2 linked regions of the Homo sapiens genome follow. The protein of the gene in region 1 interacts with the protein of each later gene in a pairwise test. Each region holds a gene or a part of one and is shown in the gene's direction. Other genes may lie near its edges.

Region 1 (4,587 bases):
CCCAGCCCAGTCAGCCCCTGCTTCCTCCAGTCTAGATTGAGGACCCCAACACCCATATCCCAGGTGACCTTGAGCCAGCCCTGGCCCCTCAAGAACTGCCAGTGGGAGCCACCAGCCCTTTGCAGATAGCTCCTGTGAGCATCCAGGGTGTCTGCAAGTGGGAGGTTGAGGGGTGGGAGGCAGGCCTGAGACCCTCGTCAGCACCTCTTCTATATGGCTGTCCCATGGCAGAACCATGCCCATTTGGAGGGTGGGAGTCAAAGTGAGCTCTGATCTAAGGATGATATCAGCCCCAGACCAGGAGTGAAAGGCAGCCCTTTCCCATTTTCCAGCCACCAGCAAGGCAGAAGTTCGAGTGGCTTGAGGTTTTCAGGGGTTGCCACCATCCCAATGCCTTTCTCTCTAGCCCTGCCAGCCAGAGCTGAGTCCCCTGCCCGGTCTCACAGCTTCCCCTCCACTCATTCCCCTCAGGAGAAAAGACAGCCATTTCCATGTCACAGAGGGAAACCAAGGTACGCCAGGGCTTGGCTGTGGTGGTTCTGTGAGTCAGCAGGAGAAAATCCTGGAGTCCTGACTCCCAGCCCAGGGCAGGGGAGGGTCGGGTATGTCCTCTCAGGGCATTCCCCCCGCACTGGGAAGTGGGGCAGGCATGACACAGAGAAGACCAGCTTGAATAGGAACAGCAGAGGCCATGAGATTAATCGGATCAGAGCCAGTGACTGAGAAGCAAGGGGCACAGCTGTTCTGAGAACCCCCCCACTTCACCCCGAAGGTCAGCATCTCCCCCAGCTTCCTACTGGTGGAACCTGGGACCTTAACACCCACCACCCGTCTCTGAGCACCAAGGGCCTGTGTGGAAAGCAGGCAGGGGTGGGATAAGGAGCCCCCAGCCAAGAACGGGGCCATCCTAAAACCCCTGTCTGTCCCCAGGACACCAAGTCCCAGCCCCCTTCTTGTGGACAGGCTGACAGCTGTCTCCTACACCTTCTAAATAAGGACGGGGGTCATGGTCGGGGGGCCCCAGGTGAGGCTCAAGCAAGCCAAGCCTTACTCCTTGCCTGACCTCACTGCCCCTGCCCTCTGTGTTCCAGCCTCAGCCTCCTCTGAATATCTGGGGTGGAGACAGAATTGATATAAGAAGCCCTCCCACCCTCGCCCCCACCCCACCCCTGGTTGGGAAGGGGGAGGCAGGTAGAAGAGGTATTTTGTTGCCTGAGTGTCGCCTGAAAGTCCCCCATTCAAGCATCTCTCACTGAGGCTATGCATTGCCAGTCCTCTTGGCGGAAGCTCCCCTTCTGGCTTTGGGGGGTGTGGGCAAAGCATTTCAGGGGTTAATGTGACACCCACAGACCTCAGAGAGAATCTGCTTTGGACTGAAGCATTCCCCCCACAAGACTCAACGGAGTCCCTCTGGCAGCTCTGCTCTCCCACCTAGGGGCTCCCTAACGCTCAGGCCGCCCCTTTGCTCCCGGCCTGCCCCGGCCCCCGCCATTCCCCCGACCAGCCCCTCCTCCCGCGGGCCGCCAGGGATTGGCGGGCGGGGGGCGGGCCGGGGGCGGGGCCGGGCGCCCTTCATCCCGCGTCGCTGTTGTCGCTGTTGCAGCCGAGTTCAGCCGGGAGCAGAGCGAACCGCACCGGCCCGAGCGGAGCGCCGCACGTTCCCAACCGCGAGGCCAGGTACCGCTTCGGGAGTTCATCCCACCCGCACAGGGGAATCGGGTGGGCCGAGCCCTACTGTCCACCCTCCTGTCCGTAGCCGGGCTCTGGGCAGCTCTCCTCTACCGTCCTGACCCGGGCAGGCGCCCCAGCCTCCGGCGAGCCAAAGCCCCGCGCGCTCCAGGCGCTGGTCTTGGGGACCTGCCAGTCGGGACTCAGCGCCGAGCTTAAGCAGGGCCCTGGGGGTACCGGGAGGGACACGTCGTCGCCTTAGGGCCTCTCGGCGGGGCTGCGAGGTACAGCAGGAGGTCGGCGGCACCCGGGGCTGGGACCACAGGACGCCTTGTTGGGGGCTCGGGCGGCACACCACAGGCTTCCTGAGGCAGGGCCCATGGGGCAGGCTGGAGAGGGCCCGAGGGGAGGACCCAAGAGGGGCCTGGAGCAGTCCCTGGAGCGCTGCCCCGACGGGCGCCTGACAGGCAGAGCAGCCCGGCTGGCACGATGGGAATCCGGGTATATTTATCTCGGCTGCTCCGGACAAGGGCTTGAGGGCAGATCGGGCCGGGCCGCCTGAGGGGCCGCGGGGTACATGCTGGTCCCAGAGCCGGTGCCATTTGCAGAGGAGCCAGCGGGCACAGCGGGCGCAGGGCGCGAGTGGCTCCCTGACCTGAGGCCGGGGCGCCGTGCGAGCTCCTCCCCACCTGGCGCTGGGTAGGGTGTAAGTTAGAGCCCGCGCAGCGCACGGCGGAGAGAAGGAACCAAGACTTGGTTTGCAAGAGCCCGCCCCCGCCCGGTTGGCCCCTTCGATTGGCCACAGCAAATGCGTGCGTTTGTTTACACCCAGGCAGGGGGAGGCCAGGGGAGGGACCTGCGGGGACCCGCCCTTTTCCCCCCACGGGGACCTGAGTCCTGAGTCCAGGTATGGGCTCTCAAACAGGTCTGAGAAAGGCTAAGTCAAAGGCTCTTGAGCCCTGAGGAACACCATGGAGGACTTCCCCACTCATGCCCATCCTTCCTTCAGCCTGCCAACCCTGTCCTTTCTTCCATGACCGACTCTGGCCACAGAGCTGCCCCTGGAAAAGGCCCTTGGACCTTTCACCCCTTCCTGTTCTGTTCTGTAAAAGGTCTGGGATGGGGCTCATTTCCTTCTGGAAAGGAAGCACATCCCTCGGGGCTCTCAGTCTGGGGGATAGAAAGCTAAAGAGACCCAAAGATGGTTCCATTTTGAATGGGGGAAATTCGGCACAGCCACGGTACCCTTCCTGCAAGAAGCATCACTGACGGGAGGGATCAGGACTGGAAGAGGCCAAGCCTGGCACGTCTCTGAGAGGGCTGGAATGACTGAAACCAGAAATGGGAATCTGATTTCTTGACATTGGGAGCAGGGGGCTGAATCTCTGGGGAGGGTAGGAGTCTGTATCTCAGAATTTTGTTCTGCCTGGGCCCATGGGACCCATGTCTTCGCTGGCTTCTCAAGCCACTCCTTGTTGTGTGCTGGTTTTTTTGGCCCATGTCACAAATGGTCCCCACACCAGTCCAGGGCTCCAGGTTGCCAGATCATGACAACTGGTTGCTCCTGTCCTTGTGCCACTGCCCTAGCAAGTAGCCTTGAAGCCCTGGACAGTTGGAGAAACTGAGGCACAACAAGACTGGCTGGGTGGTTCATGGTCTCTGGGTTGAGTCAGAGAAGGATTTTAAGCTGAACTGGACACACCCTGGAAGTCTGGGCTGGGTGTGAGGACAAGCATCCAGTTTGAGAGGGAAACATATTTGGAGGGGAGTGGTGTGGGGTGGGCCACCAGGGAGGTGCAGTTTTGGTGTCTCTGTGAACAGAAAGCTGAGGTGGAATGTGCAGTCTATGCTATAGTAGAATTGGGACCCAGTGGGAGGATGTTTTAGTGTAGACATGGCCAGGGGCCAGGCCTCACTTGGAGCAGGTAAGAGGGCTTGCCGAGGGCCTCAAATGCATTCCATTCGTTTATTTTTTTTATTTTTTTCATTTTTTGAGGTGGGGTCTCACTCTGTTGCCCAAGCTGGAGTGCAGTGGCACAATCTCGCCTCACTGCAACCGCCGCCTCCCAGGCCCAAGCAATTCTCCCACCTCAGCCTTCTGAGTAGCCAGGACCGCAAGTGTGCAACATCAAGCCTGGGTAATTTTTTTTGTATTTTTGGTAGAGACAGGGTTTCATCATGTTGTCCAGACTGGTCTCGGACTCCTGACCTCAAGCAGTCTGCCTGCCTTGGCCTCCCAAAGTGCTGGAATTACAAGTCTAAGCCACCGCGCCCGGCCATTCCATTCATTTAACATTTGCTGAGCACCTACTGTGTGCCCGGGGTACACTCTTGTCTAGTGGGTGAAGGGTAGGCCTTTGACTCTGGGTGGTAGGACAGACATAGGAGAACAGGGTGGGGCTCTAGAGGACCAGGCGGGGCTTCTGGGGGCCAAAGGGAAGGACCAGCTGCTGGGCAGGAGGGGCTTTCCGGCCAGTGGCCTGGGGTGGCTTGGTTTTGAATTTCCGCTCTGCGGGCCACGTCCTGTACACAGCCTCTCAGCCAGCACGTCTGCACACGTGCATGGCTGCTGGGAATGGGGGTCACTCCGACTGACCATCATCTCCACATGTATTTTCCATTGCTCAGGTAGACAAGTCCTGGGTGCTGGACCAGGGATATCTGAGCTTTCCAGTTGGGCCTGGCCTTGTGGCCCTAGTGGGCTCAGCCCCAGCCTCTGGGTGTCATAGCACCTGGTTGGTAGGGGCATAACCTGCTCTGTGGGGACCTGGAGGTGCAGCAGCCTTTTTGTGGGGTCCTCCAGGGTTCTGCCTGGCCATCTTGGCAGTGCCCATTGGGCCTACTGCCCCCTCAGCTGGGCCCCCTGGCTCCCTCTCCCCTTCTCGCTCTTTCTGGGGCTCTCTTTTTCTTCAGCTTTCT
Region 2 (4,363 bases), on another chromosome or scaffold:
ATCCCTGCCACTTTAAAGGTCTTGGTGGGCTGCCACACTCTAGCAAGTCAGCATGCCTTGAAATATGCTGACCCCCCCTGCCGATGGCTTCCCCTTTCTTTACTAGGCCAATTGGGTACTTTCTCTCCCCACTAAATTACTAGACCCAGTGCTTGGGATACAAACCTGGATTCTCTCTACCCCAGGGACTTCACGGTGCCTGCCACAGGGCAGGTGCTCAGTACATGCTTGTGCCACAAACTTGGGTACTCTCTGATGTTGAATTTTTTTAAGGTAATCCATGCAGATAGGAAAGTGAAAAAAAATTACACACGAGAAAAGGGAAATTTTACCCTCAATCTTCCCACTTTTCCCCAGAGGCAACCGCTGGTACCACTTCCTTGTGTATTCTTCCTGAGATATATATGGAATGTATAAGGATATATATTCAATCAATGCTATGGAGAAAAAAAAACAGCCCTCTGGGGGTCCGCGAGTGCTGGAGACGGTCGCGCACGGCTCTCAGGAGCTGCAATCTGAGAGCTGCCCTACTCTGGGCCCAGAAACGACCCTCGTGCACCTGCAGTCCTCCAGGGAAATCTGAAGAAAGTTCCACAGCTTGGATCCCCAGCACTTTGGGAGGCCGAGGCGGGAGGATCGCTTGAGCCCAGGAGTCGGAGACCATGCTGTGCAACATAGTGAAACCCCCTCTCTACAAAAAATACAAAAGTTAGCTGGGCAAAATGGTGCCCTGTGGTCCCAGCTACTCGGGAGGCCGGAGTGGGAGGTTCGCTGGAGCCGAAGGGGTCGAGGCTGCAATGAGCCGTGATCGCACCACTGCACTCCAGCCTGGACGACACAACGAGACCCTGTCTCAAATAAAAGGAAGGAAGGAAGGAAGTTACACAGAAAGGCCGCGTCGGCTCTCCTTCCCACGCCCTCCTGCAGCGCCTGCGCACCAGGGCCCGCTTCACGCAGGCCTGCGAAGCTGGAGCCCCTGGATAGCCTTTCTTGCCGACAGAGGCGGGAGAAATTTGCTACTTCCTGTATACCTTATCCTTCTCCCTTCCCAGTCTAAGATACGAACTATAAATGTTCGAACCCAATTCACCCCGGAGGGGAGGGGCCAGATACCAGTGGCCTGAAGGCGCCCAGGTATCCAGAAGAATTGTGGGTGGGGACCCGCGGTCCCGTGACGTGCGTCCGCCAATCAGCGCGCAGACCGCACTTTGCGGCTCGGCTTCAAACTACCGTGAGGCCGGAGCGCCACTGGGACCCCGCCCCCTTCGCCTGGGTCTGGGGCCCCGCGAGACGGCGGAAAGGGGTGGGGGCGCCCGGGGGGGGGGGGGGGGCCCCCGGAAGGGGGCGGGGTCCGGGATCAATTAAGGGCCCGCCTCACCTATTCCGGGCGCGGGCTGAGTCCCGTAGCCAATGGGCGGGGGTGGGGGGCGGCCCGGCCGGCGGGGAGGGGGAGCCCGCGGCCGGGGACGCGGGGGGAGGAGGAGGCGGGCTCCCAATCCGGTTCCATCCGGTTCTCCCACCGCCCCCGCTGTGGGTCTCAGCAGCTCGGGCGGCGGGAGGAGTGGCAGCGGCAAGGCAGCCCAGTTTCGCGAAGGCTGTCGGCGCGCCGCGGCCCGCAGGCACCCGGCACGCGCCTTCCCCGCAGGCACCCGGCACGCGCCTTCCCCGCCGCCACGATGCCCAAGAGGAAGGTGAGCGGCGGCCGCGGCCCGCACACGCCCCCTGGAGCCGCCGCCGGCGCCCCGCCGGGCCCCGCGAGGCCCAGGCCCCGTTGCACCCACGGTGGCGACGGGCCCGGGAGGCGCTTGGAGACCGGCGGGCGGGCAGGCGAGCGCTCGGCGGCCGCGGGGGCGGGCGTTCTGGAACGTTTGGCGGCCGGGGGAGCTGAGGGGGCTATTCGAACGGGGCGGCGGGAAGCCGTGACGTCACGCGGCCGGGCATTGTTCTCGGGGCCGGGCGGGCCCGCGAGTCCTGGGACTGCGGCCCGCCTCTATTCGTGCGTCTCCGTCTCCGCAGGTCAGCTCCGCCGAAGGCGCCGCCAAGGAAGAGGTGAGTGCGGGCCTTCTGCGGGGGGTGGTGGGTTTCCCGTGAGCCGCTGGCCTGCCTTCTCTTCTCGCTGACTCTCCTTTTTCTTTCTCCAAGCCCAAGAGGAGATCGGCGCGGTTGTCAGCTGTAAGTAAAGCGAGCCCCGTAACCGTTCGTTTTCCGCGGGTCGTCCCGGGTGAGGACGCTCAGTGCTGCTTTTGCCTTTCAGAAACCTCCTGCAAAAGTGGAAGCGAAGCCGAAAAAGGCAGCAGCGAAGGTAAGCCTCGAAACGCGCATTGGGATGCAGCGGGGCCTTAGGCTACACTGCTTCTTAATGCGGGGCTTCCATTTTGATTAGCTATTGGAGCTTTATTTATACTTTAATAATTACGGTAAATAATTTTTCTAGTGGTCGAGGCAAAAATGTAATGGATATATTCATCCTGGTTTATAGAACTATATCACACTAATGCTGCTGCAGATGTTAGGAGACTTAGGACGACAAAAAATATTAAATATTAAGTCTACAAAGGAAATTTATTCTTTGCGTTGCGTACATTGTGGCTGGTGCTTGGCTTTTAATTCGTGCTTGTACTTCCTTTTTTGACAATAAAAGAGTCAAGATAGCACCGAGGCCAGGAGAAAGGGAACGTGTAAGTTTTTATATATACAGTTTCCAAGCCAACTTCGGGAAGCCTTAACCTTTTTACGGGGTGGGGGTGGGGAGGTAAAAAGTTGTGATCTCTGAGAAAATAACCGCCACTACTCTGGAAGTGTTCATCAGCAGTTATACAAAACCGTGATTTTGGCTGCTCCCTAACAAATTCGTGATTGCATGATTCGAATTGCAGGTCTGTAGAATGAAGTTGGCTTTGGGTGTACGTGTGTTTGATAACTTGCAGGGTGGAAAAGCAGAACATGTGTAAAACAAGTATAAGCTTTGTGTTTGGATATAGCATTGAAACCTGTAAAGCTCTACATGTTCTTCGCGGGGTGATTAATTTTTATCCAAAACTTAGGTGAGAGTTTGCTATTTGAAGTCTCAAAAAAAATTTTTGTTAATGCCTTCACCTCTTTCCTAAAAGTGTAGGTAGAAGTTTAGCACTGCAGTCATCAGAAGAGGCAAGATTAATTTCCTTGACATTGAGGAGTTGTTGGATAATTACTAAATTTGTCCTTGTTAAATAAAGGTATAAAACAAAGATGTTTTTTCTTTTTTAATTTAAATTTTTTACAGAGCTGAGTGTAAAAATGTTAACTATGTTTTCTTTAACAGAAAGTTCTGTTTTTGTGATCCTTTTAAAAATAAAGCTTCACGGAAGGTATGAGAATAGTATTTTTCAACTTTAAATTTCTCATTACCAGAAGACCATGTGGTAATTCTCTGTATACAGTTAGAACAGCACGGAAACTTGAAGGCCTAAAAAATTAGCTGACCTTGTTAAAAATGTTGGCGTGAGCAGTATATTATTACCTATCTTTTTTTATTGTGTGTGTGTGTGTGTGTGTGTTTTAAACTAATTGGCTGAAATATCTGCCTGTTTCCCTCTTTACATTTTTCTTGTTTCTTTCCTTATTTATCTTTGTCCATCTTGAGATCTACTGTAAAGTGAATTTTTTAATGAAAACAGTTCCAAGTTTTACTCTCAGTGGGTTTGGGACATCAGATGTAATTGAGAGGCCAACAGGTAAGTCTTCATGTCAGTGTTTGTTGAGGAACGAGCCTATGAGGTCAGTTTTCCCAAAAGGAAAAAGGGCAGAAGGGATTTGTTCATTTTTACATCTCGTTTCTGTAATACACCTTTGACTTCATGGTTGATCAGACTTTGAAGTCTAAACAGAACGTAAGCACTTGGTGTATCGATTATCATACTACACAGTAGACATGTTTTCAAGGCATATCTTGTCACTGTGTGTGCTTCTGACTTGTATCTTTCCCTAGAACTAAATATTTTGAAGGTCCAAACATTATACTTTGGGAAACTTGATTGATTTTTTTTTAATCTAGCTTTTCAGCTGATAATGGTTACACGTGGTATTATTTCAAGTCCAAGATATTATGTATTCTATTTTAACTGTTTCCCAGTTTTGTATTTTTTGTATTGGAATGATTATGAAATTAATGAGAAATCTTTAGAAACAGACTACAAAAGAGTAGTTCTTAAATACAGAAGTGATTGTGAAACTTTGTGATAGCAATGTGTGTAGTAGCAGTTTTGTCTCAAATACATTTATCATTTGTTACTCAAAGGATGTTGAAGTATTAAAAGTCATTATGCTGTCTGTGGAATCCTACTATTAGTACAGAACACCCTGCAGTGATTTTTCCGCCCGTGTT

Evidence for each region.
Region 2: the proteins of SLC38A3 (region 1) and HMGN1 interact in a two-hybrid assay, tested with the Homo sapiens proteins (one large-scale study listed by BioGRID and IntAct).

Annotation. Positions count from the first base shown.
Region 1 is NC_000003.12:50,203,672-50,208,258, forward strand, and holds the start of SLC38A3 (sodium-coupled neutral amino acid transporter 3), read left to right. Parts: upstream 1-1,599; 5' UTR 1,600-1,677; exon of another isoform or gene 1,678-3,806; intron 3,807-4,587. UniProt on the Homo sapiens protein: Symporter that cotransports specific neutral amino acids and sodium ions, coupled to an H(+) antiporter activity.
Region 2 is NC_000021.9:39,346,231-39,350,593, reverse strand, and holds the start of HMGN1 (non-histone chromosomal protein HMG-14), read left to right. Parts: upstream 1-1,505; 5' UTR 1,506-1,676; coding exon 1,677-1,691; intron 1,692-1,988; exon of another isoform or gene 1,989-2,016; coding exon 2,017-2,049; intron 2,050-2,140; exon of another isoform or gene 2,141-2,142; coding exon 2,143-2,172; intron 2,173-2,254; coding exon 2,255-2,302; intron 2,303-2,651; exon of another isoform or gene 2,652-3,215; intron 3,216-3,301; exon of another isoform or gene 3,302-4,363. UniProt on the Homo sapiens protein: Binds to the inner side of the nucleosomal DNA thus altering the interaction between the DNA and the histone octamer. May be involved in the process which maintains transcribable genes in a unique chromatin conformation.